Homo sapiens: one gene and its partners. The protein of the gene in region 3 purifies or fractionates together with the protein of the main gene of each other region. This does not show direct contact. Each region holds a gene or a part of one and is shown on either strand. Other genes may lie near its edges. The genes, in order: DGUOK, NPLOC4 and MTPN.

Region 1 (7,106 bases), on a different chromosome or scaffold from region 3:
CAAGTAGTTGGGATTACAGGCATACCACCATGCCCGGCTAATTTTGTATTTTTAGTAGAGACAGGCTTTCACCATGTTGGCCAGACTGGTCTCGAATTCCTAACCTCAGGCGATTCACCCACTTTGGCCTCCCAAAGTGCCGGGATTACAGGCATGAGCCACCATGTCCAGCCCCTAGGGAGAATTTCTTAAGCTGATACTCTTTTCTTTTTCTTTAAAGAGTCTCACTCTGTCACCCAGGCTGGAATGCAGTGGCCCTATTATAGCTCACTGCAGCATTGCTTCTCAGCCTTTTGGCTAAGATCAAGTGTATAGCTCACTGTAGCACTGAACTCCTGGGTTCAAGCAAATCCTCCCACCTCAGCCACCAGAGTAGCTGGGACTACAGGCATGCACCACTATGCCCAGGTAACTTTTAAATTTTTTTGTGGAGACAGAGTCTCACTATGTTGCCCAAGTTAGTCTTGAACTCTTGGCCTCAAGCAATCCTCCTGCCTTGGCCTCCCAAAGTGCTTGGGTTATAGGTGTGAGCCCCCATACCTAGCCCTTAAACTGATACTCTGTAAGGATCTTCTAATTCACTAATTAGGTTTACTGCATTATACAGTCTGCTAGCTACCATCTTCATTATCTTCATTGGGTGTTTTACTTGGGCAATTGCATTTTTCACCTCTAAGAAAGTTATTTTCTTATTGTTCCTTTTTTATGATAGCTTATTCTTGTTTTATCAGCAAGGCCGTATCTTTTGTTTTCTCCTGTTTCTGACAACAGCCCTGTCTGAGCACAGAGACTAGTCCTCTCCTTTTGAATTGCTAAGTATTTTTGTGTCCAATTATTGTTCATCTGTTTGCTTATATTTTTGGAAGGATGTTTGCATTTGTTCTGTAGCTGAGATGGGTTCTTTCAGAAATTGTGTTGGTTTCTTTTACATTTTTGGTTCCAGAAGAGTCTCTCTTTGATAGCCCAAAGCCCACTGGTGCAATAGAACCCACCAGTCAACCTATTGCATCTGCCAGCACAGCACTCCGCTCCACATACAGTGTGTGAATTGTGCAACAGGCCCAGGGCTGCTCCCAACCATCTCTAGTGACACCACAGAGACTACAGGAGACACAAATTTGTCCTCCTACTTCTACCTCCAGCTCTTAGTCAGGGGCCACGTGTGAGGCTGGTATGTGTGGGCTTGCGGGGTCAGAAGGAGGGAAATCCCGAAAATACCTCTGAGTTAAATGCTTTTCTGGTCCACTCTGCTCTATATGTGTTGTTTCTGCTGAAGCCTTTCAAAGGGCTAAGACCCTTCTTTGGAATCTAATAGTGCTATTTTGCCAAATTGGACTTCTTACTGTTGTTGAATCTTTTTTCTCCTTCTGTCCTGTTGTCTCTACCTGAAGTACAATCTTCTTAATCTCCATTTCCATCTGTGAGAATTCTACTCATCAGTTACTTCCCAGCTTAATGCCACTTTCTTTCAGAAACTCCCTGAGATTCCTTCCACCATCAGTAATCGTCCCTTCATCACATGTTCTGCCTTACATTCCAGCTTCGTACATCCTCATCACCCTCTTCCTTTTTGCACTGTGAGCTCTTTGAGTTCAGGAACTGTCTTGTTCACCTTTAGATGGAGGGTGTTGGAATGATGAGGTTAGAGGAAGCCAGGTTTGAGTCCCTTCAACATTTACTCGCCATGAAACCTTGCACAAGTAAGTTACTTAACCTCTGAGTGGATTTTCCCCTCTGGAAAATGGGCATTACAACAGTACCTACCTCATGAAGCTGTTTTGAAGATTAATTGAGGTAACATACCACAGTAAAGGTTGAAATAAATGTTAATTCCTTTTTCTATACCCTTACGGTACCCTGCCCATGTAGCGCCTCATCCACACAGGCCTTCAGTGATTGGTGATTGAATAAAAAATACAGATCCAAAGTGCTTTTGTACAAAATTCACTTTTGCATTGTTGAGTCAATGGCAGATCCAGAAAAGAATCTGGGGCTGGGCGTGGTGGCTCACGCCTGTAATTCCAGCACTTTGGGAGGACAGGAGTTCGAGACCAGCCTGGCCAACATGGTGAAACCCTGTCTCTACTAAAAATACAAAAATTAGCTTGTCGTGGTGGCGGGTGCCTGTGATCCCAGCCACTCAGGAGGCTGAGGCAGGAGAATCACTTGAACTCGGCTGGGGTGGGGAGGAGGGCGGAGGTTGCAGTGAGCCGGGAGGTTGCAGTGAGCTGAGATCGTGCCACTGCACTCCAGCCTGGGTGGCAGAGTGAGACTCTGTCTCAAAAAAAAAAAAAAAAAATCCGGGGCTGCTGAACATCCCACACTTGTGCCCACTTGCACATGCCGAGTAAGTGGAACGTTTTAATTATGTTTCATAAAGTCTCTAGAATTAAGTAGGGTTTTGTTTTAACAAACAAATTGTACTCCTTATATGAAAGATAAAATTCTATTTGGTGGTTGATTGGTTGGATTTTCAAATAAGCAGTTGCTTTCTGGTTTGCCTTGACATTTTATAAACATAACTACAGATGGAAGCTCAAAAGAGAGGCAACATAGTGTTATAGTGGAAAGATTTGATTCAGAGTTAAATTTTAGATGGTTGTTGACTGTTAACTCCTCCCCAGACAGACTTCACAAATCCCTCAATCAGTGATCGTGTTAATTCTATATATGGTTCTTCCTCTGCTTTTGTTATATTGAAGTGGCATGTCATCTCCCTTTAGAGAGTCTTATTTAATAGGTAGGAAAATCTCATACCTGATTATGAAATTTTGACTAAGCTGGGGATCTGATTCTACCTTTTTGGTGGAAGGAAACTTTTGTAATTTCTTCTTTCATTGATTATTAAACCTGTTTGGGGAGGTAGGGGTGTGTGTGGAGGGGTGTACCCCATGGAGTAAATATGCTTTCTAGGAAATTTTCTTCTTTTTTTCATCTCCCTCTAGGCCTGCACTGCCCAAAGTCTTGGAAACTTGCTGGATATGATGTACCGGGAGCCAGCACGATGGTCCTACACATTCCAGACATTTTCCTTTTTGAGCCGCCTGAAAGTACAGCTGGAGCCCTTCCCTGAGAAACTCTTACAGGCCAGGAAGCCAGTACAGATCTTTGAGAGGTCTGTGTACAGTGACAGGTAAAATGCCAAGCCCTCCACCAGTCACAAGCCCCATGCTCAGTGCTGCCTGTTTGATCTTGCACAGATCCTGCACTGCTATGGTCACTGATGATTATAATTTGAAAAATTATCTTCTTTTTTAAAGACAACACTATACAGATTTGTCCAGAGTTGTACTTCTACCAGATTGTCATCTATGTCAAGAAAGGAAATTGGGTTTTTCATCAACTGAATGCTTTGAATTTCTTACATTGCTACTGATTACCTTATGTTTCCTTATTTTCTGGCATGGAGCAAGCTGGTAGCCACCTAATGTAACCATCACATGCTAAAAGGCACATAATAGACACTTAAGTAGCAGTGTATATTCTAAGAAATCAGATGATTCAGTGGTTGATTATCCCCTTTAAGAAAAAAGCAGACGAAATTAAAATTTGTGTTCCTGAAAATGATATAAGAGATATTTTCAGCCTTTTTTTTTTATTGTTCAAGAAAGGATGCTTAGGCAGAAATAGCACATCTGAGAAACTGGCTTCTGTCTCAGATTTAGCCCTTTTTGACCCCTTCTTCTGTGAGAGGGCTTTTTGCTGGCCAGAGTCTAGTGGACATCAGTGCCTGTGTCAGATCAGGGATGGGCATCATCCTGACCACCTGAGGGAGTGAGATGTGAAGTCACTTTGAATGCAAGCTAGCAGCACCCTGGGAAGTGAGCCCATCTGCTCCAGAAGAGCTAGGCCGTGCAGGCTCCGGAATGCCTGGCTCTGCTGCAGAGACCAGGCTGTGACTTGAGGTTAAGCCGCCTAGAGACAAAGTCAGGATGGCTTGATCTGGACACTGCTGGAGTTTTTCTTATCTGAAGCCTATGAATGACCAGTGTCAGTGTGAAATAGTGCTTTCAAGCAAAACGATCTTTCTTAAGGCTCTTTGAATTATCAAAATGGGAAGTGGTACATTTTCATTGTCACTGCTGAAGACACTCAGTTGGTTACTCTTTTAATTCCAAATTAGACAAACTAGTTCTATTTCTTAGTGCTTCCGGAAAGCCTCCTAGAAGAAAAAAAATAAGGATACATTTGTAAATGACAAGTGATTTTTCTGACTTTACCCTAAAATCATGGAAGATATGTAAAACAAACCCTATAGGCTATCCGTTCCTTGTGTACGTACCCCGAGAGAGCCTACTTTTTATAAAAGCTAAATATGTGAATTACAAATGGCTGGGCTATAGGTTTTACTTCTTTTTCAGCTGTTGGATATCCCACCTGCCTGTTTTCCTCTCTTCTCTCCCAAGCCATGCCTCTCGGACTCCGAAGTTGAATTACATATAACCACATGGGTTGTTTGGAAACATAGTCAGTCTTTATTTCTAGCCGCTTCATGAAGTAGGTGTGTGAGACCCTCAGAGGAAAATAGAGAAGTAGAAACACTTTGTTAATTAGAAATGCATTAAGAAGCTGCATGGATCTTAACCTTTGCTTGTAAAGGAAGAGGTAATAATTGATTACACTGTGGGCATACAACATTCCAGGTGCTATCTTCAGTGAGGGCATTTTCGAGACAGAAAGGAAAACTAATCACAAGTTCTAATCCCGAGGGTAATTTAGACTTTGTTCACTTGCACAGATTTATTGGATGCCTCCTGTGTTGAAGCACCAAGGCTGGCCCTGGGGCTGCAGCAGTGAATAAGGCAGACCCAGTCCCTGCCTAACAGGGACTGAACACATGCTCACGTGTGTGATATTTGTTCCAAAGGAGGAACACAGGTTATCTGGGAGAGTTGATTATAGCGAGGAAGAAATCTTAGTCTTTTCTGTTTGAGTTAAAGGAAACATTAGCATATGGTTTTAGAGCAGAGGCCCTGACTCCTAGATCCTTATGCCCTGTTCTGTCCTGCAGCCCCTGCATTCAGTCTGCAGTACTTCCCTCCCACTCAGCACCACACCCTTCTGCCCCTCACCCCATCACCACCACAAGCTTTGAAGAAATAAAGGAAGTGCTCTTTCTCAAGAAAGCCAAGAACCCCTTTCATAGGGCTTATTAGCAAATCTTTAATTTCTCTTTATAAGATCCTTTTTTGTTTTAAGACAGAGTCTCGCTCTGTCGCCCAGGCTGGAGTGCAGTGGTGTAATCTTGGCTCACTGCAACCTCCGCCTCCTGGGTTCAAGCAATTCTTGTGCCTCAGTCTCCTGAGTAGCTGGGATTACAGGGACACGCCATCATGCCTGGCTAATTTTTGTGTTTTTAGTAGAAACGGGGTTTCACCATGTTGGCCAGGCTGGTCTCAAACTCCTGGCCTCAGGTGATCCGTCCGCCTCAGCCTCCAAAAGTGCTGGGATTACAGGTGTGAGCCACAGTGCGTGGCCACTTTATAGGATCTTAATTTCATCTTCTAGTTATCTGTAAAGAACTCAAAAACATTTTGAGTTTAAAATGTTACCCTTTTATTTGTTCTCATCAACTAGACTATGGCTAAACCATTCCAGACTGGGAAAGTTTACTTGTGGAGTTTCTAAGTTAGCTTCTTCATAGCCTAACAAAAAGCAGTTATAATAATAACTAAGATATCTAGAAGACTATGTGCCAGTCACTCTTCTAAGCACTTTGTGAGGATTATTACAAGACATCATCATAACAGGCTGAGAGGATTTAGGTGACTTGCCTGAAGTTACATAGCTAGTGAATGTTTCAGCCAGTATCAGACCCTGAAATGTTATTCTGGAAGGTATTCTCTCAGTGGTGACACTCACAGCCTTGCAGTCTGTACTTTCCTGAGCCATCATACACAAGGGTTCTGAATTTTATTTTCTCCAAAGTGGCCAGTTGCTGAGCATTGCCTTGGAAACTGGAGTCCCTTGCTTAGGATGCAAATTGTGTTTTTTATTAAAATGCCTGAGGTTTGAAAGCAGGATTGACCCCTGGTTTGTCTGAAGCCATGGTTTATGTTTAGCTCTGATTTCCTGTTTACCAGATGCTCTTTTGGTTGTAGAAATAAGCAGGGGGCAAAGCTGGTTTGATTTTTAGCTTTAGCTTTCTTTTATCTGAACTAGAAACTCAGCAGCAGAGGAAGCAAGCAAGCAGGAGCTCATAATGCATTTTGCAGGAGAGTCTGCTTTCTTAGTAATACTGAAATTAGTAGGAAATGCATTTTCTGCTCCATAGAGGACACCACATAAATACTATTTCTTCTGCATGTCTCAGCTAAACAAAAGGATGGCTCAGTAGCCTGGAGACTTAGAAGCCCTCAGTCCTTGTATGAAATTTAGTGGGTGGATTTATACTGGATTCACTTGTTTATTTGTTTTGGGCCTTGCTATAATAATAATAAGGAAATCTCAAAAGTTCAAGTTTACATATATTTGCTGTATGTTCTGACTGGTTTCTAGCAGAGAAAATTGTTAGGGACCAATGATACTATCTTCTGTCTCTTTTCTTCCAGTGAATCAATCCATCTGGAAAGGTGTGATTTCAGCCTCCAAAGTCTAGATCCTATTTCCCATCTTAGTACTGAGCAGGGAGGGAGATATGGGTTAAGAATTCAGATTTCTTAAGGATTGATGAGGAGCTAGAAAGGTTAAGTGGTTTGAACAGACATGGAACAAGTTGGTTATTGATTTTTCTGCTTCTCTCTCTCTCTCGTGCCTTTCATTCCATTTCCCATTCTCCTGCCCTCCCCATTCCCATCCCACTTCCAACCAGGTATATCTTTGCAAAGAATCTTTTTGAAAATGGTTCCCTCAGTGACATCGAGTGGCATATCTATCAGGACTGGCATTCTTTTCTCCTGTGGGAGTTTGCCAGCCGGATCACATTACATGGCTTCATCTACCTCCAGGCTTCTCCCCAGGTAACACTGAACCTACAACCTTAGACTTTAGGGCCATATGAAACCTAAGAAGTGACATTCTCCAAGCCCCTGATTTTCTGGTTGGAGAGATTAGAGCGTAGACATTACCTGCAGCACAGAGAGCAGTGGGGGACACCCTCCTGTCCC
Region 2 (7,106 bases), on a different chromosome or scaffold from region 3:
CCACCTTGCCCGGCCAAAATAAAGTAGTTTTCAAGAAGAAAAAAGGAATAGAGAATAGGAGGTTTCCAAAAAAGTCGAGGAGGCCACGGAATTCTCTCTAAGGAGCCGTTTTCTCTAAGGGCACAGCGGCAGGAGGAAGGCGAGGCAGGCTACTCAGAGGCGGGACAAGGACAGCAGAACATCCAGAAAGGCCGGAACGCTCCCTCCTTCCTGAGCCACATTCTCTCCTTAAGCCAGCCTGGACAGGTGCTCAGAGCTGGTCCAAGGGGTGCCCCTTTACCAACCTTCAGAGCCAGTTTCCTCACAACCACTGAGGATTTTAAATAATCATCAGGAACATTCTGCCTCCATATGAGCCAGCAAAACAGAGAACTGAGGGCGCGCACTCCATATCTCCAAGAGCAAGAAGCCTTAAAAATGATATATTCAGTGTACCACTTCCACAAAAGGATCATTCAGTCCATCAAAAAGTACTGAAAATCCACCACGCATAGTGCTAATAGCATTCCACTCCAAGGGGCTCTTCTGGAAATATCCGTTTCTCAGCCATGAAAACAAATCTAGACAGACAGGGAACATCTCACCTGTCTGTTCAGCGTGATGGCGCTCGGCTGGCACTTAGTACAGATGCCATTCGGCCACGGGAGGTGCCCCTCGCACCCTGACTTAATCTTGCAGCTGATGTTCTCCAGGGCAACAAACTTCCCCCTACATAGAAGAGAAGCAACTTAAACATCACATTGGTGAAAAGTTGAGCAAGAGGCTGGAAATGACATGCTAAGTATCTTATACCTCCTGAACAGTGTCTCAGGAGCTAAGCACGTGGCAGCAGCAGGGAAGATGGGCTAAGGATGATTCTAATGGAAGCTCTACCTACAGTTCCAGCACATTCCGAATCCCAGCTTCTGTCCCACATACTTCAACCATACAGGAACACACAACTACTTTCCTACCAAACTGTGGTGTTTTTTACCATCTATCACTAACATCCGAGAAAGCTTTCAAGAATACTGTAGAATATCTACTGATCTCACCTGTGCCACTGAGCGGGCATGAGGCTCCTACAGGTTTCATTAAATTGTCAGAAACTTTGACATTAGCCCAGTACTTAGATATTTGTAAAAAATTCTTATTCATGGGAAAAATCTGATTAGGATATATAATTAAGGCATCTTTACTCTGCTTTAGGCTAAAATAAAAACTACTGTTGAAGACTGTCAATGAGAAAATCCTGGACCCTACTCTGAACTTTTTCTTTTTCTCCAGCTTTATTGAAATATAACTGACAAAAAAAAAAAAAAAAGAAATCTGTATCTTTAAGGTAGACGTGAGGTTTTGTTTTTCAAATAAAAACGATATATTTACAGTGTACGAAATGATATTCTGAAACATGTCCACACTGTGGAACGGCTAAATTGAGCTAATTAACATATGCATTACCTCACATACTGATCATTTTTGGTGGTGAGCCATTTTTGGTATCATAGCATCTAGGAAGCAAAGACTCGTCACTGAATCTGCATGCTAACAGCAGCCACAAACACGCCCCCACTAGAGACTGTGTTCCTTGACCTAGACTGAGAAAGGCTGACCAAGTCTCTTTCACTACAATCAATCTGCACCCACTCCTTAGTCCAGAGAGTTCCACAGCTTTCCCCACTGACAAGCAACAGTGGGTTTCTAGCAGGTTTTTTCTTCTGGTCTAACATTTTTAAAAAGTCATTTTAGGATGTCAGCAGGTTGTCAGAGAAAAGCTACAATCAGGCGAATATGACATCCTTCACAAAATGTTGCTGACTTCAGTTCAGCCACCATCTCCTCGTTGCACTGACAGGAATTATAAAATAATAGCTGAAGCCTGCTACTTTCTGGTAGGGTGTACAGAGAGCCAACAGGAGAAGGTCATACAGGCAAGGGCTTGCCATGGCTTAAAAGAAATCAAAATGCTCAGTTCACCCCTTTCTGGCCACTGTTACCACCTCTGCCCACCTGGCTGAGCCTGTGGGCAACTACTGTGGTACCATGAGGATTAGTGGCTGCAGCCCCTGCTGTGGCTGAAAACCAAGCTGACTCAGAGGCCAGGCTCTGGGGAAAGGGTTACCAGGCACTGAGGTGGGGAAGCTGAGATTCTCACAGGGTAGTTGTTTTTCTGAAAAGCAGAGAATGAACTCAGACCACAGAATCAACAGGCCACCATCACAGATGCTAACTTGCTGGGGTGGTGTGTGTGGGGACAGCCTCTGTCTGATACTGCACTGTGGCCACGCAGCCAGGCGCCTGCACAGTCGCTCTGCCTTGCTAGCTCCCTTCTAGAACCAGGTTGGCCAGGCGAGGTGGCTCACACCTGTAATCCAGCACTTTGGGGAAACCAAGGCAGGAGGATCACTTGAGCCAAGGAGTTCTAGACCAGCCTGGGCAACATAGTGAGACCCCATCTCTTAAAAACATATATGAGTACATAAAAAATAAATAAATAAATATAGAACCACGGTAACTTTCAAAGGCGTGTGACCCCTTCTCATCTTTACTTCTCTCATTCACACGTTCACTGGCTATAAGCAACAACTGCCAGCTACACAAAAAGGAATTTACGCACAACCAGGTTACAGCAAGTTGCTTACTTGTCAGCCCCTCCAGTCAGCTTCCGGATGTAGGCGTGGAAGGACATGTGCTTCACGGGAGGCTCGAGATGGTTTAGATAGTCCTCATCGAATGGCTGCCAAGACACAGAGTAAGCGAGTGCAGTCTCACACGTGCCGGTCACTCCAGGCGCTGAGCCTCTGCTACGCACAGGGGGAGGCCAGCAGCATGGCCTTGGCAAGTCAAGGCCCACAGTGAAAGCAGGTACTAGGGTCTCCCTTACCACTCTGAGTCAGAACCAAGTTTTTCTTTTTTTAATTAATTGTTTTTTGTTTGTTTGTTTTGAGACGGAGTCTCACTCTGTCGCCCAGGCTGGAGTGCAGTGGCACAGTGGCACAGTCTCTGCTCACTACAACCTCCACCTCTGGGTTCAAGCAACTCTTCTGCCTCTGCCTCCCAAGTAGCTAGGACTACAGGTGCACGCCACCACGCCCAGCTTATTTTTGTATTTTTAGTGGAGACGGGGTTTCAGCATATTGGCCAGGCTGGTCTCAAACTCCTGACCTCATGATCCACCCGCCTTGGCCTCCCAAAGTGTTAGCTTTACAGGCGTGAGCCACTGAGTCTGGCCAATTTAACTGTTTTAGAGATGGGGTCTCATGCTGTTGCCCAGGTTGGAGTATGGTGGTGCAATCATGGCTCACTGCAGCCTCGACCTCAAGTGATTCTCTTGCCTCAGCTTCCTGAGTAGCTGGGACTACAGGCGTGAACCACCACACCCAGCTAATTTTTTAAATTTTTTGTAGAGACAGGGTATACAAAAAAAGAGTTGCCCAGGCTGAACAATTCCTAGGCTCAAATGATCCTCTGGCCCTGGCCTCCCAAAGTGTCGGGACTACAGGCGTCACTGCACATAGCCAGAAGCAAGTTTTTCTTTGTGTGCCAGTTATCTTTTCAAGATTAAAATGAATCTCTATTAAACACAAAACGCTCTAAGTCAAATGAGTTTCAGGAAAATTGTGCAAAAAGAAATGCCACAAGATGAGGCAAGAGATGCCTCATGAAGAAAATCGGGCTGGCCTTCCTGCTGTAAACCCAGCATTAACAGTTCCAGTCGGCATTATTACGGTAACTCTCAGTCTCACCAGGACAAACCAGTAGAAGAGATGTGAGATTCAAGGCAAAGTAAATCAACAATGATAAGCACGGAGGCCGACAGGCTCAGCTTTGTGTCAGATCGGAAAAGGATTGTCCAGGGAGCCCGCTGTAAATGCTGCCCCTTTATCACAGCCACACAAATGCTTCAGCCATTCATAATCCAGCGAGAAGGTCACTCCCATAAATAAAGGCTCGTCCTGTGTGCAGCTTGCACTAGGGGAATATGAGGCCCAGGGCAATAAATAGGTAAGTTCTTTGAACCACTCACTACAGCCAAGTGCGTGGACTCAGGGCAAGCACTTAAGACAGCTGTCTACCCGCAGCCCCCCACACTGGCCCAGAACTTACTCCGCAGAGACTCTCACCTCTAGAGGGACGCAGTGCACGCATTTCCCCAAAGGGCCGTGGCGGCATCTGAGGAGAGTACAAGGCAGAAAAAGGCAGAGCAGTGAGGATGTCTGTGTTCCGCTGCTGCTGTCTCACATGCACGTCCTACTTTAACAGAGTGTTTCCCTGCCCACGTGGAGTTATATTCCAGATGGCACATGGATAAACATTTATATTTTAATTGTTGTTTTGTTTTGTTTAAAGACAGGCTCTCACTCTATCGCCCAGGCTGGAGTGCAGTGGTGATCGTGGCTCCCTGCAGCCTTCACCTCCTGGGCTCAAGCACTCCCACCTCAGCCTCCCCGAGTATCTGGGACTCCAGGTGTACACCACCACACCCAGAAGTTTACTACTTATGTTGATATGAATTAGAAAAAACTGACCCGCACATCAAACCTGTGACTTCATGGGTATCCACTGCTTAAAATGACACAAACCAGGCCGGGCGCGGTGGCTCACGCCTGTAATCCCAGCACTTTGGGAGGCCGAGGCGGGTGGATCATGAGGTCAGGAGATCGAGACCATCCTGGCTAACAAGGTGAAACCCCGTCTCTACTAAAAATACAAAAAATTAGCCGGGCGCGGTGGCGGGCGCCTGTAGTCCCAGCTACTCGGGAGGCTGAGGCAGGAGAATGGCGTGAACCCGGGAAGCGGAGCTTGCAGTGAGCCGAGATTGCGCCACTGCAGTCCGCAGTCCGGCCTGGGCGACAGAGCGAGACTCCGTCTCAAAAAAAAAAAAAAAAAAAAAAATGACACAAACCAAAGATAAAAGTGAATGAACTCAAAGTCAATGTAAGTAGTTTATTGGCCAAAGGCAGTGGCTCACACCTCTAATCCCAACACTTTGGGAGGCTGAGATGGGTGGATCACCTGAGGTCAGGAGTTAAAGACAAGCCTGGCCAACATGGTGAAACCCCATCTCTACTAAAAATACAAAAATTAGCCGGACGTGGTGGCAAGCACCTGTAATGCCAGGAACCAGGGAGGCTGAGGCAGGAGAATTGCTTGAACCTGGGAGGCAAAGGTTGCGATGAGCTGAGATTGTGCCACTGCACTCCAGCCTGGGAGACGAGAGTGAAATTCCACTCAAATAAATAAATAAATAAAATAGTTTTTTTTTTGTTTTCTTTTTTTCTGAGACGGAGTTTCACTCTGTCACCCAGGCTGGAGTGCAGAGGTATGATCTCGGCTCCATGCAACCTCCGCCTCCTCGTTTCAAGCGATTCTCCTGTCTCAGCCTCCCAAGTAGCTGGGACTACAGGTGCACACCACCATGCCTGGCTAATTTTTGTATTTTTAGTAGAGACGGGATTTCACCATATTGGTCAGGCTGGTCTCAAACTCCTGACCTCAGGTGATCCACCTGCCTCAGCCTCCCAAAGTGCTGGGATTACAGGTGTGAGCAACTGCGCCTGGCCAAGTCCATTTAAAGAAAAGTGTTAAATAGGCCAGGTGTGGTGGCTTGCGCCCTGTAATCCCAGCACTTTGGGAGGCCGAGGCGGGTGGATCACAAGTCAGGAGATAGAGACCATCCTGGCAAACACGGTGAAACCCCGTCTTTACTAAAAATACAAAAAAATTAGCCAGGCGTGGTGGCGGGCGCCTGTAGTCCCAGCTACTTGGGAGGCTGAGGCAGGAGAATGGCGTGAACCGGGGGGACGCAGCTGGCAGTGAGCGGACGTCGCGCCACTGCACTCCAGCCTGGGTGACAGAGCGAGAGTCCATCTCAAAAAAAAAAAAAAAAAGAAAAGTGTTAAATAAATAATAACAAAGCTGGTACGTGAACATGGCAAAGGGCCTGAGAGCGGTGCATAAATAATCCAAGTTTGGAAAATACCTACTTCATATGCATTTTGGGAAATAACAACAATGAAAAAACCTTGTCCCACGGCTTTCTAACATTTTCAGTCACAGAAGCCTTGGGAGCACAACACGCACAATCTGAAGGAGAGGTATGCTGGTTTACGAGGGCGCCGGCGGCCGTCCCTCCGGGGCTCAGTCAGACCCCTTTCTAAGTGGGGTCAGAATTCTTACATGCGTATGAGCCCTGTGCTGCGGAACAGAGGTGGCCTCTGTGCTTCCTAATAGGCAGGATCTAAGTGATGATGGCTCAGAATTCTCTCACACACACACGCTCTCAAAAGCTGCTAATGAAGCCATGAAGACACAGATCATGCAAGCAAGCCAGTGCCAGGCCCCTGGGAGGAGACACAAATGGAAGAGGCATGCCGGCTAATGGCTATGGCTACAAAGTGGCTCCATGCCAATGGCAGGAGAGCACCATTTATGGCTCTCTGATCTAAGACATAAAAGTTGCTAATGCAGCATTTGGAATCCCAATACCGCAAAGTCAGCACCCCGTCACATCTACAGAGTGATGCATTTTAAAAAAGACCCCACTGCAGAGACAACCTTCGCTCAGACAATTTCACATGGCCAAGTATAAACTCAGATCCTTCTCACTGGTTTATTTAAAAGGAATTGCAAAAAATCTAAAATAAACAATGTACATATGCATAAGCACTTCATATAGCCCCAGGTGAGGAGGGAATATTCCAAGGCACAGCATCTTCTGCAAGTGAAATGCTTGCTGCAGGGATGGAGAGCGCACACTAGTGTGGCAGGTCAAAATCATCCAACCGCTATGAAATGAGAGACACAGCACTCACCTCACATGGATGCGCACACACAACCACCTGCCCCTTCCCTCCTCCCTCCCCTGCAGCTGCTGATTAACACCCCACTCTGCACGGGAATCAGCATCTCCAGGGGACATCACAGTAAAGACTTGGTGTGAGGCCCCCAACTCCCCCAATACCTTTCCAGTCTCTTTGTACCCAAATGCTTCAAAATTTTTTATGGGAACATATTTTGAGGTGGAAACTGATAAAAAGCTAAAAAAAAAAAACAAAAACCGATAAAAAGCTAACAAGATAACTTGAAGTTTAATCTGAAGATAGTAAAACTTAAGACTTAACATT
Region 3 (7,995 bases):
ATACTGAAACTCTCAAAATCATCTTTGAAGAAAGGCACAGATCACAGACTGTTTCTGCGATTCCATGTTCATTTGTTCCAGGTATGTCCTTAATCTTGGAAAAATAAACTCCTAAATTGATTGAGGACCTGTCTCAGATACTTTTGGGTTTGCACCACATTATCCCTGTCCTTATCTATTTCTTTTTTTTTTTTTGAAGACAGAGTCTTGCACTGTCACCTGGGCTGGAGTGCAGCAGCGTGATCTCGGCTCACTGCAACTTCCGCCTCCCAAGTTCAAGCGATTCTCTTGCCTCAGCCTCCAGAGTAGCTGAGATTTTACAGGCACCTGCCACCATGCCCGGCTAATTTTTTGTATTTTTAGTAGAGATGGGGTTTCACTATGTTGGCCAGGCTGGTCTCAAACTCCTGACCTCGTGATTCACCCGCCTCGACCTCCCAAAGTGCTGGGATTACAGGCATGAGCCACTATACCCGGCCTCCTTGTCCTTAAGTGAGCACTGGAAAATGTGATCTCCTTAAAGTCTGAGCAGCGTTCTCAGACAACTCTGTCCACAGAAGGTTGAAGCCCCACTCCCACTTGGAGTCTATTTACAGTTTCCTTTAGTCTTGACTGATAGCTATTTTGGCATGTCTCTCAAAAATTTAGCCAGCTTCTTCCATATTTGATTCAAGCTAGCTCCACATACCATGATTGTGTGTGTCTCCACTGCACTAAGTCACAACTTTCTCTTTTAATTCTTTCTTGTAGGTACCTTGAATCTATCCAGCTCTGTCATGGGAAGACCTGTGCCATGTTGTTCAACTGAAAAGATTCATGGGGTACCACTTTAATCTATTCGGAGGTTTTAGTCATGGGTGTGACTATCACACCCGTAATTTGATCCTTGCCAAGAGGTTGAGTTCTAATCAACCTTTGTTGCTCATCTCAGTTTTGTTTTTAATGAATAATAATGAGAATCACTTGCATCTTCTAAACGTGCATGTCTCCAAGTTTATAGCTTCCTATAATCACTTTCTTTCCTAACTGCAAGCTGGACAATTATTTTCTAAACTCATCATTTCCTGTAGTATTGAGACAGGAGAATAGGGTCTGGAGGCACGGAGATTAATTAAATCTTTTTTAATCATCTAAGGCTGATTCACACTGACTTCCTAAAACTAAATCAAAAGGAAAACCCCAACTTCCCATGCCTAAGTAACAAATGGACTCAAGGCTACTCCCTTTGCAACCCCCATCTTTTCTGAGTGTCAGATAAAAAATTGTAAGTACCTCTGACTGGTCCCCTCCTGCAGTCAATCAGGCTGGTCACAGGCCAAGTCTTCCTTTGCATAGGAGTATAACTTTGTAACTTCACTTCAGCCTCTGATTCATCACTTTCTGCAACCAATTAGTCGTTTGCATAGGGTGTAACTGTAACTTTGCTTCAGTCTCTGATTGTTCCCCTCCTGCAACCAATCAGACTGATTGCGGGCCACTACTTCATTTACATAGGGTGTACACCAAGTAACCAACAGGAAACCTCTAGAGTGTATTTAAACCCCAGAAAATTCTGTAACCAGGTCCTTGAGCCACTTTCTCCAGCCTGTTCCCACGCTACAGAGTGTGCTTTCATTTTCAATAAATCTCTGCTTTTGTTGCTTCATTCTTTCCTTGCTTTGTGCATTTTGTCCAATTCTTTGTTCACAGTGCCAAGAACCTGGACACCCTCCACCAGTAACAGTATTTTATATAGTCAATAGTTACTGATACATGCCACCAGCTTTCCATTTTCTGGCCTTTTCCTCTAGAACTACTAGACCTTCCCCATATTATTACAGTTTTGCCAAAGGTTTCACTCCTGTGAGTATGAATCACCATCTTTACGGCTTCTCCTATCACTTCCTTTGTTGTATACTCCCCAGCCACTGAGCCAATGCCATTTATTTAAAGGTTTTGTTCTAGTAACATTCCCATTCTGACACTAATTTCTGTGTTAGTCAAGATTGGTTCAGTGTTCCTCTAGTAATAAACACCACAATTTCAATGGCTGAAAACAATACAAGTTAAATTCATATTCATCCTATATATCCATTATAGGACAGTGAGGGAGCTCTGCTCATTGTAGTTACACAGGAACCCAGACTGACTGTGTAGCCACTATCTTGCATGTTGCTAGTTGCTGTAGTAGAAGGAAAGAGTTCTGAAGGGTCTTACAATGACAAGCCTGGAAGTGACTCATTTCACGTCTGCTCATAACTAATAGGCCAAAATTAGTTACATGATATTATTCAACTACAAGCCAGGAAGAGCAGTTCTCTCTTGTGCCCAGAATGGCAGACAAAGGAATTATTTGTTTAACACCATGAATACTTACCAAAATAGGTAAACAAAAAAGATAATTAAAATACTTGTGACATGTGCTGTAAATGGGGGAAAAGCTGGGCCCTGTAAGTAATTGAAGGACCTATTTAAAGTGGGTGGTCTGGGAGGTCTCTCTGAAGGTTTGCATTGAAACCTCAAAAGTCAGATGGAGTGAACAAGACTTAGATGAAGAACATTCCAGAGAAGAAACAAGAAGCATAAAGGCCTTAGGGTGGAATGAGCTTGGTTTAGCTTGAAACTGACAGAAGACAAGATATTTCAAAATCAAAGAAACAATGGGGGTGGCAAGGGACTGTCATGAGATAGGAGATACTATCACCTACCATCAGCAGTCAGTGCACAGAAGGCCCTGAAGGCCATATCAAGTAGTTAGGATTTTAACCTACCTGCAATAGGAAGCCTTTGAAAGGCCTTAGGACAACAAGTGCATGTTTAAGTTTTAAAAGAGTAACTCCCAAAGTGGGGAATTATCTAGAAAAGGATGAGTGAAAATAGGACACCAACAGGGAGGCTATCATAGCACATAGCATCATAGCAGTGTAGACAGAGATGACAGTGACAGGGATGGGGGATATGTGAGGGTGCAGGGAGTAGTAATAGTGAAGATGGCAAGAAATGAACAAATTTAAGACATATTTTGAAATATTTACTGATGGATTGAATAAGAGAAAAGTTGAGAATGGGAAGAGTGATTATGACTCCCATGTTTCTGGTTTTAGTGATAGGGTGGTTGGCAGCGCCATTTACAGAGATATGTGGGGGACAACTAGGTTTAACATCTACAGGAGACCAGATCCTATTCTGGACATGTTAAGTTTGAGAAATCCAAATGAGTAAGAAGTTAAATATAAGAATAGATCACATAGGAAAAGTCTAGTTAAAGATTTTTTTTTTAGATGATCTTGCTCTGTCACCCAGGCTGGAATGCAGTGGTGCCATCATAGCTTACTGTGGCCTCAAACTCCAGGGCTCAAGTAATCCTCCTGCCTCAGCTTCCCAAGTAGCTGGGAAGGCAGAAGTCCGCCACTGTACCCAACTAATTTTTTTAATCTTTGTGTTTTGTAGAGATGGTGTCTCATTTTGTTGCCCTGGCTGGTCTCCAACTCCTGGCTTCAAGCGATCTTCCAGCCTTGTCCTCCCAAGGTGCTAGGATTACAGGCATGAGCCACTGCACCCGGCCAAAGATATAAATCAAGAGCTCTCAGCATGATGTAACTCAGAAATCACACAGGTGGGAGTGTGTTGGAGAAGAGATGGAGATTCTAGGACTTGCCTAACAAATTCCCCCTTGAGATTTGTTTCCAGAAATCGTATCACTATTGGGTATGTGGATTTGTATTTCTAATTATCAGGGAGTAAAATTAACAAATGACAATCTAGGTAGATGTTAATATTTGGAGGGATTTCTTCTGATTTGAAACCCATTTGCTATTCTACTCTAAATGATAGCAAAAAAAAAAAAAATACATTTCCAAACACTATTGACATCCCCATTTTACACAAGTGGAAAACTGAAGCAGAAGGGGGTTCAGTAACTTGCCCAAGAAGACACAAAATTAGCAAGAAGTGGGACCTGTATCGCAAACTAAACAATTTGGCTCCAGAGTCTGTTTGGAACCCCTACACTGTACGGCAATGGTGGTAAAGTAGCTTAGTTAATGTGTTTAGTGGGTTACAAATAATAGATTATATATATGAGTTTTATATATAGTAATAGTTATATATGTATATATATTATACGTATATTTCTAGCTCCAATAAGAGCTTTTATTGGATCTATGTTCATGTGCGCATGCCTGGATCATTAGGGTTGTGAGGAACAATTCAAGTGGTAGCTATGCACTATGGCATTACAACTAAACCCTAGGAAGAACAGAACTGACTTCACCAGAACAGTCCTGAAGTTTCAAACCATTAAAAACAAACAGTAAATTTAAAAAACGCAAATTGTACTAGACAGTTTGGTTTGCTCCACTTTACGGCATCAAACTGAATGCCTGGACGTCATTTGCTGGTCAGGAAGATGAGTTAATTTTTTTTTTCCTGCCACACACTTAAGTTTTTTGCTCCAGGGAACATTATACATAGTGTTAACACACTCAATTTACATTGTAGTTTTAGTGTTGAAGATTTCCTGGAGGGCAGGAATAGCGTTATTCCATCGTTTTTAGCCCAGTCAGACTGGATGACGGAGAGAGGGAGGGGTGAAAAGGAGGGAGGGAAGGGGAAAAGGCAAGGAAGAAGGAATTCAAATTAAACACTCTTCCTATACATTTTTAGAAGCTGAGCAAGATGCCCTCCAAGATTATGTTTTTTAAAAAGTAAAGTTTTTCCCATTAATGGTGGTGCAGAAGCGTCCTAATCCCATCGAAAGTACTCTCACTCTTCCTCCATTCGCTGTCTTGACCTCCCCCGGGCCTCCTTCATTCTGCCTCCCAGTCCCGCCCACTTGTCGCCGGCTCCTACCCTCCACTCTAGCCTTCCCGGCAGCCTGTACATTGCGCATGCGCACTAGTGGCGTTCGCGCCGCGGACCCAGAGAGAGGCGTTCCGCGGAGGAGAAGAGGAAGAGGAAGTTGGGGGAGGGTCCTAGCGGGGAGTGAACCGGAAGTGTAAAGGTTCCTGCCTCTCCTCGGCCAGGCGGAACCTCTCTGCTGGGCCCGGTGGCCGCAAAAGAACTTTCTTTCTCCCGCCCGAACGGTCGCCGCGGCCAACTGCCTCGCCCGCCTGGCAGCCTAACCCTCCTTCTCTTCTTCTCCTCTCCGGCTTCGCGCGGCCCTGCCTCCCTCTCGCCCGGCGGCATCCGCTTGCTGCTGCCACCGCCTCCTCATCTTCTGCCCGGCCAACCGGCCTGCCCCGCTGCAGTGATGTGCGACAAGGAGTTCATGTGGGCCCTGAAAAACGGAGACTTGGATGAGGTGAAAGACTATGTGGCCAAGGTAAGCGGGGATGAGAAGAGTAGGCGAGAACACGGAGGTGGGCTGGAGATGAGGCTGAGGAAGCTGATGGGAGCTGGACTGCGGGGATGGGGGTGGGCGGGAGGAGAGACTTCCTGGGTGGAGGCGGCACCAAGGAGAGAGGGGCGTCTAGGGAGGAGCTAAACTGAAAGAAGGGTCCAGGTAACTTGGTAGCGTTCTGTGTCAGGTAACTGCTGCGTTAATACAGTTAGGCGCTACCTGACTTCCTGGCCTCTTGGGGGAGGGGAGGAGTGGTGTCTGGCTCATCCAGAGTTTCTTCTGCGCACTGATCATTTGAGTTTGGCCCTCTTCTACACCAAAGTTACTTAAACCTTTCTTTGAATGAGGTAATTCTCCATCTTGGACTTACCCATTACTAAATGAAGTAACCTAAGTAATTAGGATCAGAGGAACATGTTTTTTAACTCTCGGCCTGGTGTGAAGTTGAAGAATTCATTGACCGTGAAAAGAGTACCGAAAATAGAAATAGTTAAAATTCTGAAACTGAGTATCACTTCACTGTGGTGTCTTAACTTTGGGTGTGGCCTTTTTCCTTTCCCCCACCACAACAAATACATATTTGCTTCAAGTGGTAAGGTTGTCAACTGGCATCTGGGAATGTTTAAGGTATCTGAATAGTTTTTAAACAAGCATGTTAACTTCAGTTATTCCATTCTTCTCCCTGATTTCACCTGAAATGCTTACATGTGTAGTAAATAGCAATGCAGTTTAGTGGCAGTGTATTTGGGGGGTAAAATCATGATGAAGAAAGACAAACTCAAACCTCAGCCCCAAATATAAAACTGAATCGACATTGTGGCAGAGTGGGAAACTTAAAATTCCAAGCTAGCCTGTCTTTCCATCCTGAAACTGTGCCTTTGTAATTATGAGAGAACTTAACATGTGATTTTAATTTAGTGATAATCTAAAATGAATCTTCCAAAACAAGTATAATTTTATGACAACCACGGATGGCATCTTGCTCACCTTCTAAAAGTGTGAGAACCCAGTCTAGATTTTAACTCTTCAAAGAATAGGACCTGACCTGGGTTTTTGCTTCAGAGGCTGTGTTAGGAAGCAAGTAAGCGAAGCAGTTTCTTAAAACTTACAGGATTGTGCAAGGCAAACTGCTGAAGGTTTTTACTTTATTTAATGCCATTACAATTTAGACTTTTTGGATGCTGCTTACCTGCTTAGTTTTTTGCAGTGGAGTTTTAGGACAGGCTGTCTTCTCGTCACTGCCTTCTCAGCTGGTAGCCAACTGAAACTTGACTTATTGGCTATTTCAATATAAAGCTAAAAGGTAGAAATTATTTGGTACACTTACCAGTGGTGGGACACTGCAATACTCTGGAAGTAAGTGGGCTTTTGTTTTCCTGTCATGGTGGAACCTAGGTTGTTTGATATACTTGAAATACAAAAAGTTGATTAAGTACTAACTGAACTTACAGCTACCAAAATAACACAATGTATTTAGTGTTTTCCTGACACATTATTTTATGTCATCCTTGTGAATACTGGGAAGTAAGTCCTATTATTGGTCCCATTTTACAGATTACTGAGATGCAGGATACTTAAGAAAAGTTATGGAGATGGTAAATTGTGAAGCAAGAACTAAATTGCTGACTCCAAAACTGAAACTCTTTAACTGCTCCACGCACTATCTCTCAGTCTAAGATCTAATTGTGAAAGCGTATCATACCAAGATTTCTAGTAGGACATTCCCAGGGTCCACATTCAGGCAGGTAAATTGTGCCCAAAGAATTCTCAACTACACAAAAATATTTATATGAAAATATATGCCAATAAAGATGGATTAATTTATTTCCAATTAGTTTTATAATTAGGTTAGGTTATCATGTTCAATTTGATTATTTTCCCTATATTACTACCGTAGCCTGTTCTTCATTAATGTAAAAAATTTGCATAAGAGGGAGGGTAGACATTCAGAAAAAGCAAAAGGGAGTATTGAAAGTTGGACTATCCAAAAAGATATGACTGTAACTGTAATGTAATCTGATGTACAGAGCATTGAGCTTTATCCTTTCTTAGTTTTGAAGATTTCATAAAGTATCTTTCACTTTGTTAATGAGAAATAATAACAAGAACTGAAGTTTATACTGACTCAGCTCCCTTACGGTGCCCATTTATACTTTCAGGTCCTTATTACAGTTTCTTCTGCCCCACAGCTGTCTTCCCTGCTTATTTATTGACTCACATTTTTCATCTACCAATTTGTGAACACTCACTTTTTGAGTTTCTGTAATGTGCATCTATCTGAGTAGGTGTGTACAAAGAAAATACTAAAGAAACACTTAGACCTGTCTAGTCTTCATTCTCAGGGGTGAGAGTCTATTTTAAAAACTCTCCTCAACATTCCTGTGAAGATCTCTCATATTGTTAACCTAAGAATCTACCTGTAAGAGTAAGATAAGCATTTTAGTATTCCCCTCCTCCTCCTCTTTTTTTTGGAAACAGGGTTTTTTTGTTTTTGTTTTTCGGAGACAGGGTCTTTGCTTTGTCGCCCAGGCTAGAGTGCAGTGTCGTGATCATAGCTCACTGTAACTTCAGCCTCCTGAGCAGCTGGGACCATAGATGTACACCACGACACCCAGCAAATTTTATTTTTTGTAGAGACTGGATCTCACTTTGTTGTACAGGCTGGTCTCAAACTC

The links.
Region 1: the proteins of MTPN (region 3) and DGUOK purify together in Homo sapiens (affinity purification with mass spectrometry; 2 studies listed by BioGRID and IntAct, with this or other methods). This does not show direct contact.
Region 2: the proteins of MTPN (region 3) and NPLOC4 fractionate together in Homo sapiens (co-fractionation; 2 studies listed by BioGRID). This does not show direct contact.

Annotation. Positions count from the first base shown.
Region 1 is NC_000002.12:73,943,774-73,950,879, forward strand, and holds part of DGUOK (deoxyguanosine kinase, mitochondrial isoform a precursor), read left to right. Parts: intron 1-2,945; coding exon 2,946-3,133; intron 3,134-6,811; coding exon 6,812-6,959; intron 6,960-7,106.
Region 2 is NC_000017.11:81,606,107-81,613,212, forward strand, and holds part of NPLOC4 (nuclear protein localization protein 4 homolog), read right to left. Parts: intron 4,153-7,106; coding exon 4,104-4,152; intron 2,717-4,103; coding exon 2,622-2,716; intron 709-2,621; coding exon 585-708; intron 1-584. UniProt on the Homo sapiens protein: The ternary complex containing UFD1, VCP and NPLOC4 binds ubiquitinated proteins and is necessary for the export of misfolded proteins from the ER to the cytoplasm, where they are degraded by the proteasome.
Region 3 is NC_000007.14:135,974,336-135,982,330, reverse strand, and holds the start of MTPN (myotrophin), read left to right. Parts: upstream 1-4,971; 5' UTR 4,972-5,230; coding exon 5,231-5,302; intron 5,303-7,995. UniProt on the Homo sapiens protein: Promotes dimerization of NF-kappa-B subunits and regulates NF-kappa-B transcription factor activity. Plays a role in the regulation of the growth of actin filaments.